Linked DNA regions of Homo sapiens. The protein of the gene in region 1 purifies or fractionates together with the protein of each later gene. This does not show direct contact. Each region holds a gene or a part of one and is shown on either strand. Other genes may lie near its edges.

Region 1 (3,749 bases):
GTGATCTACCCACCTCGGCCTCCCAAAGTGCTGGGATTACTGGCGTGAGCCACCGCGCCTGGCTTCAAATGACCTCTTAAATAAAGGTGTGGAAGGACACACTCCTGGCTGTGAACAGCACCCGTGGTCCAGGAGGAGACAGCACTCCTCTGTGAACATCTTGCTTAGTTCTACATGTTCCAAGAAGCAGGCGATTTGACAGACATTCATTAAATTAATTAAAGTGTAAGGTATTTTCTCCCATTTGAACCATCCGCCTTCCCCCAATCCATGCAGGACCTGGACCCAGACACACCCCAGCCCAGGGCTGGACAGAGAGGGGATCGGGGTGGGGCAATGTGAAGCTGCTATGGTTAGGGTGGGGAGGTATGGGGGCAAAGTGGGCTACAGACTGCAGGATCTAGGCCTGGAGGTCTTCAGTGCTGACATACAGAAGGTTTTTGGTCCTGAAATGCTAACTACATCTATCACCATGGAGAAAAGCCCAATGACCTGCTACTTGGGAGGCTAAGGTGGGAGGATCACTTGAGCCAGGGAGGTCGTGGCTGCAGTAAGCCATGATCACACCACTGCACTCCAGCCTGGGCAATGGAGCAAGATCCTGTCTCAAAAGAAAAAAACCCAGTGACCAATGGCTCACAGTTCCAGGACTCTCTGCCTTACAGGTTCCTGCCCTCATGTTACTCTTGGGGCTTCAAAGCCTGGTCTTGCTTCCTGTGTGGCCTCAGGCAGTTCCCTTGGCCTCTCTGAGCCCTGTATGAAGGATGGGCCAAGTATGGGCTTGGGCTTGGGAGGCCCGGTGGCTTGTAGCTAGATTTCTGCATCACAGAGCCTCTGGATCCATTCATTCATTCTCCGCGGGTTTCTTAAGTACTGCAGTGCCAGGCTTTGGGGACACAGCTGTTTTTGTTTTTGTTTTGTTTTGTTTGAGACAGAGTCTCACTCCGTCAACCAGGCTGGAGTGGAATGGCACGACCTCAGATCACTGCAACCTCCACCTCCTGGGTTCAAGTGATTCTCCTGCCCCAGCCTCCCAAGTAGCTGGGATTATAGGCGTGTGCCACCACACCCAGGTAATTTTTGTATTGTTTGTATTGTTAGTAGGTCTCAAACTCCTGACCTCAGGTGATTCGCCCGTCTCCGCCTCCCAACATGCTTTGACTACAGGTGTGAGCCACTGCGCCTGGCAGGGGTCACAGCTGTTAATAGGACAGCCCAAGTTCCCCCCTCCCCCGCTTGGATCCCCCAGTCTACTAGGAGATGTCAACTGTGCAAGTGGTTAGCTCTGGGCACTATGCCCACAGGGTCCTGGTGGCATCTGGAGGGTACCAGGGTAGCATACCATGCCTGTTCTCTTTCCCTGCTGTGACCTGTTTGAAGGATGAGGAGCCAACAGGGGGCAGTTTGGGGCACCTGATTTCCCTGGACCATGAGCCTTGCTCCAGAACCCAATTGTGATGTGATAAAAGGCTTATGACCAGGGCAGGGGGCAGCTGCTGGGCCGCCTTGGACAACCATCAGGCAGCCAGGACACAGAGGGGCAGAGCAAGTCAGCATTGGCGCCCCTTCCTCAGATCCCTATCATCTTGGGAAACAGTAGCCCAGAGGTTCAGGAAGATGTTAACTTAAATGTTCAGGGTGCCCCAGTCTGTTCAGCATGGCTGAAATCCACACTCCGTATTCTTCCTTGAAGAAACTGTTATCTTTACTCAATGGCTTCGTGGCTGTAAGTATGTCACAATCCAGGCCCCTGGTTTGTTGCAGCCCTTCCTCCACAGTCAGCTCCCTGAAAGACAGAAATAAGTTGATCCAAATTGGCATCGAGATCTGTGGTTCCCTGGAGAAGCAGGAGGGATGTAGGGCAGACGGAGGAGGAGGAGCAGGGAGCGTGGGGACCTCCATCAACCGAGAGCTGGTGAAATCCAGCACAGATGAGTGTGATCTGGGGGAGCCCAGGTGGGTGATGGAAGAGCTTGGCTCTAAGTCAAATCCTGTAGCCGACCAAGTTGTTTGGGAAGGCCAGGAGAAAGGGTTATTTTCTTGATCTTTTAAATTTGTCACATTTTTTTCCTTACCGTAAAAGTAACCCGAAATGTACATTGCTAAGGAATTGTCAGGCCGGGGGCGCTGGCTCATGCCTGTAATCCCAACGCTTTGGGAGGCCAAGGCGGGTGGATCACGAGGTCAGGAGTTCAAGACCAGCCTTGGTCAATATGGGGAAACCCCATCTCTACTAAAAATACAAAAAAATTAGATGGGCGTGGTGGCACGTGCCTATAATCCCAGCTACTCAGGAGGCTGAGGCATGTGAATTGCTTGAACCTGGGCGGCAGAGGTTGGCAGTGAGCCGAGATTGTGTCACTGCACTCCAGCCTGGGCAACATAGCGAGACTCTGTCTCAATAAAAAAATAAAAGAATAAAAACATAAAAAGAAGTAATTGTCTTCATTGTAGCATAGTCTAAGGAAAAGCTGCCAGGAAAGAGAAGGAAATGAAATATCACTCCTCCTCTTCACTTGTAACATTTTAAAGAGAATTAAGGCCGGCTGTGGTGACTCATGCCTGTAATCCCAGCACTTTGGGAGGCCGAGGTGGGCAGATCCATTGAGCCAGGAGCTCGAGACCAGCTATAGTGAGATCCCCATCTCTATTTAAAAAATAATAATACAAAATAAAGTGTTATTGGAACATGGCCGTGCTCACTTATTTGGAGATTGTGAACAGCTGCTTTTGGGCTACACCAATAGAACTGCGTAGTTTCAACAGACACCTTAAGTCCTGCAGAGGCCACAACATCTGGGTTTTTCAGAAAAAAAAAATTGCTAATCCCTGTCCTATGACATTATTTTATTTTATTTTATTTTATTTTATTTTGAGACGGAGTCTTGCTCTGTCACCCAGGCTGGAGTGCAGTGGCATGATCTCAGCTCACTGCAACCTCCACCTCCCAGGTTTAAGCGATTCTTCTGCCTCAGCCTCCTGAGTAGCTGGGATTACAGGTGCCCACCACCACGCCCGGCCAATTTTTGTATTTTTAGTAGAGACAGGGTTTCGCCATGTTGGCCAGGCTGGTCTCGAACTCCTGACCTCAGGTGATCCACCTGCTTCGGCCTCCCAAAGTGCTGGGATTACAGGTGTGAGCCACTGTGGCTGGCCTATTTTATTTTTTGAGACAAGGTCTTGATCTGTCATCCAGGCTGGAGTACAGTGGCACAGTCATAGCTCACTGCAGTCTCAACCTCATGAGCTAAAGTGATCCTCCCACTGCAGACACCTGAGTAGCTGAGACTACAGGCACGCACTACTACTGGCTATTTTTTTTTTGTTGGGGAGAGGGTACAGATGAGGTCTTACCAAGCTGGTCTTGAACTCCTGGGCTCAAGTCTTGGCCTTGGCCTCCCAAAGTGCTGGGATTACAGGCATGAGCCACCGCACTCACCCAGTTCTATTTGTATACAACTAACAGATTACTTTTCTTCCTTTCTGGTTTCTGTTCTAAAGGTGTCTGGCATCATCCTAGTTGGCCTGGGCATTGGTGGTAAATGTGGAGGGGCCTCTCTGACGAATGTCCTCGGGCTGTCCTCCGCATACCTCCTTCACGTTGGCAACCTGTGCCTGGTGATGGGATGCATCACGGTACTGCTTGGCTGTGCCGGGTGGTATGGAGCGACTAAAGAGAGCAGAGGCACGCTCTTGTTTGTAAGTTGGATCTGCACACAGACCCCAGAACTGCCTCCCCACACACACAA
Region 2 (3,649 bases), about 10 Mb from region 1:
GGTCAAGAGTTCAAGATCAGCCTGACCAACATTGTGAAACCCCATCTCTACTAAAAATACAAAAATTAGCCGGTTGTGGTGGCGGGCGCCTGTAATCCCAGCTACTCAGGAGGCTGAGGCAGGAGAATCGCCTGAACCTGGGAGGCAGAGGTTGCAGTGAGCCGAGATCGTGACACTGCACTCCAGCCTGGGTGGCAGAGCGAGACTTTGTCTCAAAAAAAAAAAAAAAGAAAAAAACAAAGGCCGGGCATGGTGGCTCACACATGTGATCCCAGAACTTTCGGAGGCCAAGGTGGGTGGATCATTTGAGGTCAGGAGTGCAAGACCAGCCTGGCCAACATGGTGAAACCCCGTCTCTACTAAAAATACAAAATCAGCTGGGCATGGCGGCATGTGCCTGTGGTCCCAGCTACTCGGGAGGCTGAGGCTGGAGAATCGCTTGAACCTGGGAGGCGGAGGTTACCGTGAGCCAAGATTACACCATTGCACACCAAGCTGGGTGACAGTGAGACTCCATCTCAAAAGAAAAAAAAAGAAAAAAAAATATATATATATACTGCAATGTGTGCTAACAAACAGCACTTGTTTGCAGATGTGTACCAGCCCTAGTAGGTGGCCAATAAGTGGCACACAGCAAATACATTTGTATATAGTAGGTGCTTGAATGTGAACTGGTACAAAGCAGGTGCCTGATAAATGCTGGCTGTGAGCAAGTGCTTGATGTAGATGTGTATACAATAGGGGTCCAATAAATTCTATTGGTATTTGATAAACGTTGATGGACACAAAAGTATTCAGTACACCTCTTTAGTGAGCACAGTGTGTGTTTAACAGAGGTAAGCATGCAGTAGGTGCTTAATGAGGTTTTGTTGGCTCAAGATAAATGCACAGGCCAGACGCAGTGGCTCACGCCTGTAATCCCAGCACTTTGGGAGGCTGAGGCGGGTGGATCATGAGGTCAGGAGATCGAGACCATCCTGGCTAATATGGTGAAGCCCTGTCTCTACTAAAAATACAAAAATTAGCCAGGCGTGATGGCAGGCGCCTGCAGTCCCAGCTACCTGGGAGGCTGAGGCAGGAAAATGGTGTGAACCCGGGAGGTGGAGCTTGTAGTGAGCCGAGATCTCACCACTGCACTCCAGCCTGGGCGACAGAGTGAGACTCCGTCTCTAAAAAAAGATAAAATAGGGCAGGTGTGGTGGCTCACGCTTGTAATCCCAGCACTCTGGGAGGCTGAGGCGGGTGGATCACGAGGTCAGGAGATGGAGACCATCCTGGCTAACACGGTGAAACCCCGTCTCTGCTAAAAATACAAAAAAATTAGCCGGGCGTGGTGGTGGGCGCCTGCAGTCCCAGCTACTCGGGAGGCTGAGGCAGGAGAATGGCATGAACCCGGGAGGTGGAGCTTGCAGTGAGCTGAGATCCCACCACTGCACTCCAGCCTGGGAGACAGAGTGAGACTCCATCTCAAATAAATAAATAAATAAATAAATAAATAAATAATAATATAATAAAATAAAAATAGGAGCACAAATATTGGCATACAGTAGGTGCCCAATAAAAGGTGGTGGATACACAGTAGGTGTTCAGTAAAGGATGATGGGCAGGGCATGCAGTAGGGCAGCCACTCACTGTCCCTGCACCTGGCCTCCACCCCTGGACTCACCTCACCAGGGGGAATCCCCAGGCACAAGCGGTCAACAGCTGGCATCCTCTGCCCACGGTATACCTGGGAGAGTGCAGGTCTTTCAGAAAGGTGAGTGGGCCAGTGGGAGCACCCCCCACCCAGCAGTCGACCTGACCACACCTACCTTGGTCAAGTTCCTCAGCACCAACACATCCCCCTGGGTGGCTCCTTGGACCACCCGCTCCCGTTCACGGGCTACATCCTCGTCCTCCTCTCCCAGGAGTGGCAGAGACCTCACCCTGGGCCTGGGGACAGAATATCTGTGGGCTTAAAGTAGGTCCTTGGCCCCTGCCACCCTCTCCATAGACCTCACTAACTGTGGCAGGAGTTGGCTTCGGTGCTGCAGCAGTAGTGTGAAGAGAAGGAAGAGGGGCCCCTGTATCACCATGGCCAAGAGGTTCTTGCCGACCACCTCCCAGCGCAGGGGTGACTGGAACTGCCTGTCTCCTGTGGATATAGAAAGGAGGGACTGGGTCCATGAGAGTCTTGGTTTCTGGCCCTTTCTCCATCCATGTCACTCTGGATTCTTAAGGGAAAGGAACACAAATTGGATAGGCCACTCAGCTGGAGTCTAATTGGCATAGAAAACAGAAGAGGCCTCTTGTGATGTAATCTAAGAATTAGCTTTTTATGGCTGCTTTCTTGTACCTCCAACTTGGCCCAACCTTAGGGCCACCTAAGAACCCTGGCTGTCTCCCTGGGGGGCTGTTTTTCTCCACTCTGTATAATTAACTCTAGGTCTCCAAGGGTGCTAGCTATCTGTAGCCATGGCCCCACCTGACAGGAAGTTCTCACCCAAGCGCTCAAAGGCATCAGCCATGGCCTGGTTCCGCACCATGTCAATGAGCCCCCGGCCCAAGCAGAAGTGGGGGAAGATAAGGAAGACCTGTTTCAAGATCCGGCTCACCTCCTGCAGCTTCTGCTCAAGGGTGGGAGACGGATGTTGGTCAGGGGCTGAGTCCAACGACCCAACCCAGCCCAAGCCCCAGCCTCGTGGTGCCCCACCTGATCAGAGAAGAGCTCAAGCACAAAGGTGGCCATGCTTCCATTGATGCCAATAAAGAGGTTTATGCAGGTGAGCACCACATAGGCTGTGCTGGGCACGGAGAAGAAGAAGGAGGCTGGGTACATGAGCGGTGTGATCGACCAGCTGAAGGGACAATAGGAGTCACTGGAGTAACCACTCAGACTGAGAAGCCCTGAGAGGAATAAAAATCTCCATTCCCATCTTCTCTGCCTTAGACCTTGACATTTTCACCCAAAGCACATTTCTGTTTTTTTTTTTTTCTTTCTCTCTTTCTCTTTCTCTCTCTTTCTTTCTTTTTTAGAGGTGGGTCTCTCTATGTTTCCCAGGCTGGTCTCAAACTCCTGGCCACAAGCAGTCCTCCTGCCTCGGCCTCCCAAAGTACTGGAATTACAGGCATGGGCTGCCTTAGAACTCTACTAATATGAGTCAGGATAAGATGAGCTTTTAAGGCCACCTTGGCACACCACTGAATTGGATCACACACGGCATCACCTCAGACCTCCATATCCTCTCCTTGGGAGTCACTGCAGAGTTCTATCTCAGCAGCATTAATGTGGAAGGCAGTAAGGGGTCAGTAAGAATAGGCCCTGAGGGACTGGGGGCCTCACCCATACAGTAGTAGCAACAGCAGGAGAGCAGGCAGGTTGGCAGGGGCCACATATGCCCTCTGCTGGAAGGCCAGAAAGATGAGCACCACGATGCATGCTGGCACCAAGTAGTTACACTGCATTGGAGATGGCAGTTACCTTTATCAGCCTAAAGAGGTGGGCACTGCCACCCTCAGCCCTGTTCCCACCCTGACCTCCTTGCTTTTTGAGTAGGAAGGCACAAAGTCTCCCACAATCCTCAAGACTTTACCCAGGCCATCTTGGACAAGCCCCTGCCTACAAGGGGCCAGACAGGGCAGTGGCAAGCAGTGGCTGGGCCCCCACCCG
Region 3 (3,649 bases), on another chromosome or scaffold:
GCTTCACAAGCACATCTACGATCACAGCGCAACTCAACCCTGGGCGCCATGGAGGCGGTAAGCCAGGAAGTGTCCCCCTCGCTGGAACGAGGGCTGGAGCCCTGGGAAAGGAGACCTAGTGGCAGACCCCAAGCTCCAAAAGTACAAAAAAGGGACCAGAGTCTAGTTCTCCTAACTGCCAGCACCACAGTGTTTGTTCTTTAGAAGAGACTGACCCCAAGCCCCAAGTGGCACCAGCAAATCCCCTTCTGGCTGCTCTGCTTCTTGGGGTTGTCAGCAAAAACCAAGCCATAAACCCTCCTGTCACAAGACTCTCAGGCAAAGGCTCCGCCAGTGAGCAATTGTGCACACGCACCATTTACGCCGTATCTCATCACCATGGCGAGCTGCTTCTTGGTCCTGCCGTCCGCCCCCAGCTGAAGCATCCCCAGGACCGACGCAATCCCATGGGGAGAGATCACGATGTTGTCATGAGGCCTCGACTTCACAATCTGATTGAAAACCTGGATCCCCGTGTTGGAGCCTAGTTCCTCGAGAGACAGAGGATTGAAGTGGGAGCAGATGGAAGGCAGCGTCACAGAGGCCAAGAGGAAGAGGGGGAGATGCCAGTTCATGGTTCCTTCCACCAAGGACGACCTGGAAAAGTAAGTTAAAAAATATTTAAATTATACTTAAATGGGTACTTTACTACTTTTTTTTTTTTTCCCCCAGATAGAGACTCGTTCTTTCACCCAGGCTGGAGTGAAGTGGTGCCATCTCAGCTCACTGCAACCTCCGCCTCCTGGGTTCAAGCAATTCTCCTGCCTCAGCCCCCTGAGTAGCTGGAATTACAGGCGTGTACCACCATACACGGCTAATTTTTGTATTTTTAGTAGAGATGGGATTTCACCATGTTGGCCAGGCTGGTCTCAAACTCCTGACCTCAAGTGATCTGCCTGACTCAGCCTCCCAAAGTGCTGGGATTACAGGTGTGAGCCACTGTACCTGGCCTGCGAGGCCATTTTGTACTCACCTAGTATGCTTGACTGTACTCAGCATAATTGAATGCCATGTGAATATATTTAAGACAGAACAGTGTAATTAAATCAGTTTTCAAAACACACCCTGGGGAGGTGGGGAGGGAAAGGAAGCAAACTTCCATCTCTTGGGTCCTTACAATGTGCCAGGTCCTATACTAATCATTATTTAATTCTCGGTTATTTTATTTTTATTTATTTATTTATTTTGAAACAGTCTCACTCTGCTGCCCAGGCTGGAGTGCAGTGGCGCAATCTCGGCTCACTGCAACCTCCGCCTCCCGGGTTCAAGTGATTCTCACGTCTCAGCTTCCTGAATATGTGGGATTACAAGTGTGCGCCAACTCGTCTGGCAATTTTTTTTTTTTTTTTTTTTTTAGTAGAGATGAGGTTTCACTGTGTTTGCCAGGCTGGTCTCGAATGTCTGGCCTCAAGTGATCCGGCCTCCCAAAATGCTGGGATTACAGGCGTGAGCCACCATGCTCAGCCTAATCATTATTTAATTCTCATAAGTGCCCTTCATCCAATTAAGCCAATATTTACTGAGGGTTCACTGGGTGTCGGACCCTTTTCTAAGTGTTAGGCATATGACATAACTGAATGGACAAGACTCTCACCCGCACTGAGCTTACAATCTAGAAGGGAGACAGAAAATAAGCCAGCAAGCAATAAAGCATTTTCAGAAAAGGATAAAGAGCACAATGATAAAATACAGGGATGCGAGCAGATGAGGGGCCGGCAGGGTGCGGGGGGTGGTCATTAGATAGGGTGATCAGGGAGCCATCTCTATGGCAGGAACATCGTGATGAGACCTGAATGGGGGAAGGAGCCAGCCACACTCTGATGGGTAAACAGTACGCTGGGCAGAGGGAGAGCAGGGCCGAGGCCCTGACGTGGGAATAAACTTGGTGTATTAGAGGCCAGTGTGGATGTGAAATCAAGGTCGTAAAGAAGGGAGACAGGTGGGTGAAGCCGAAGGAGAGTTCAGATCTGGTAAGGTCCTGTAGAGCCTGGAAAGGCACTGGGATTTCACTCCAAGGGTTACAAGAAACCCCTGGAGGATTTCAAACAAGGGAGTGAATCCCTCGGGTTGCTCTGATTATCTTATAACCACAAGCGCTTGATTCTTTTACCATAAGCACACTGCTTTTAAAATTAAAGAATTATTAATTAAAATAAACTTAAGTGACTGCTTTAAAGTTACAATAGGGTAGGACAATTGGTAAATTCATCAATTTTGAGGATGGTGTTGCTTACACGGATGTTCTCAACTACAGTGATTTGTTTTAAAGAAGCTTCCTTCCTTAATTACCACTCACAGAGCTTTCTCTGGCTATGACAAGTAAGAGGTAGGAAATTTACATGTATTTATGGAAAAGCAAATACTTTCATTAAGTAAGAACTTAACAGTGGCAGCTGGTAAAACAAAAGCAGCATTCGTGATGTTGCTAATTCAGTTCTTCCCCAAGAGGCCCAAGCTCCTGCTAAGCACAGTCTCCCGTGGAGCCAATGTGTCCCACTCTGTTGTTACGTGTGGGAGGTTAGGGGTGACTGCAGAGAATAAAACAGAAGGGGGCCTTTTAAGAGACAGGTGACCTGGAGGGAGGGGGAAATCATGTCTCTGTGTGCTCTGGGGGAAAGCATGGGCACAACCACAGTGTTAGGCAAAACTGGCCCCGTATTTGGTGTCTCCTTGCCTTCCTTTCTACACACTTTCTGTGCTTCCCACCCTAGGGCGTAGGAGATGTTCAATAAACACTTGTGAGATTAATCCGATGGCTCATAAATACTTCCTATTTTTATTAATTAATCTTTCCCTGCATCACAACAGCGTTTATGGAGTGTGGCTAAGAAAACGCTTGTGTTTAATCCTGATCCTCACGGTCAGCTCAAGACACTCTCTGAGGGAAGAGCCACCATCACATCGAGCAAGGACTGTGGGCACACGCAGAACTCCCTGCCTGGCCCCCCGACACAGAGGGCCCCACTGTGAACCACTGAGGCCATCCTTCCAGCTGATGTTGCAAGTTTCTTATATGTTGTGAAACAAGCGCTTTTCTAAAGATTTAGAATGTTCCGTGTTTCTCCAGAGCTTCATTGTAAAACAATTGTATCAACTCAGCCCGTCTAAATTCAAAACATGTAAGTGACCTACATACGCTGCTCCCGCTTGGGCTCAACGGGCCAGCGTGGCCTATTTTGACTTTGGCACCTAGGACTGGCTCTAATGCCACGACAATCCCTGGAGTTTCCTGGAGCCTACTGGACTTTGGAGAGCGTCCAAATCATGACCGTGGAAGCTTTATTCATTCCATCTAAAAACTAGAAACTGTGTTCTCCCCTTCCTTCCTCCCTCTTGCCTTTTCTTTCTTTTGAGCAATAAATATCCTCTTTAAAATTTAATATAGCACAAAGTCATCATAAGTATAAAACATTGTGTACAATCTTTCTTACAAATGGCCAAATGCAGTGACCAACTTCATCCATCTCAATTGTTGTCTCTTGCATTATAGTCTATTCTGGTGTCTACATTCGGCCCACTATAATCTGTACTCCTGAAGCCTCCCCAAAGAAATGCTCCTAGATTAGTGAATATTTGAATAAATATTAGAATTTGGATTCAGAAGACATGA

Evidence for each region.
Region 2: the proteins of TSPAN16 (region 1) and ABCA7 purify together in Homo sapiens (affinity purification with mass spectrometry; one large-scale study listed by BioGRID and IntAct). This does not show direct contact.
Region 3: the proteins of TSPAN16 (region 1) and SERPINE2 purify together in Homo sapiens (affinity purification with mass spectrometry; one large-scale study listed by BioGRID and IntAct). This does not show direct contact.

The regions. Positions count from the first base shown.
Region 1 is NC_000019.10:11,294,641-11,298,389, forward strand, and holds the start of TSPAN16 (tetraspanin-16), read left to right. Parts: upstream 1-1,519; 5' UTR 1,520-1,657; coding exon 1,658-1,726; intron 1,727-1,862; exon of another isoform or gene 1,863-1,956; intron 1,957-3,501; coding exon 3,502-3,699; intron 3,700-3,749.
Region 2 is NC_000019.10:1,057,103-1,060,751, reverse strand, and holds part of ABCA7 (phospholipid-transporting ATPase ABCA7), read right to left. Parts: intron 3,439-3,649; coding exon 3,323-3,438; intron 2,887-3,322; coding exon of another isoform or gene 2,838-2,886; coding exon 2,693-2,837; intron 2,607-2,692; coding exon 2,483-2,606; intron 2,135-2,482; coding exon 2,005-2,134; intron 1,933-2,004; coding exon 1,812-1,932; intron 1,730-1,811; coding exon 1,667-1,729; intron 1-1,666. UniProt on the Homo sapiens protein: Catalyzes the translocation of specific phospholipids from the cytoplasmic to the extracellular/lumenal leaflet of membrane coupled to the hydrolysis of ATP. Transports preferentially phosphatidylserine over phosphatidylcholine.
Region 3 is NC_000002.12:224,001,287-224,004,935, forward strand, and holds part of SERPINE2 (glia-derived nexin isoform b precursor), read right to left. Parts: intron 637-3,649; coding exon of another isoform or gene 615-636; coding exon 356-614; intron 1-355. UniProt on the Homo sapiens protein: Serine protease inhibitor with activity toward thrombin, trypsin, and urokinase. Promotes neurite extension by inhibiting thrombin. Binds heparin.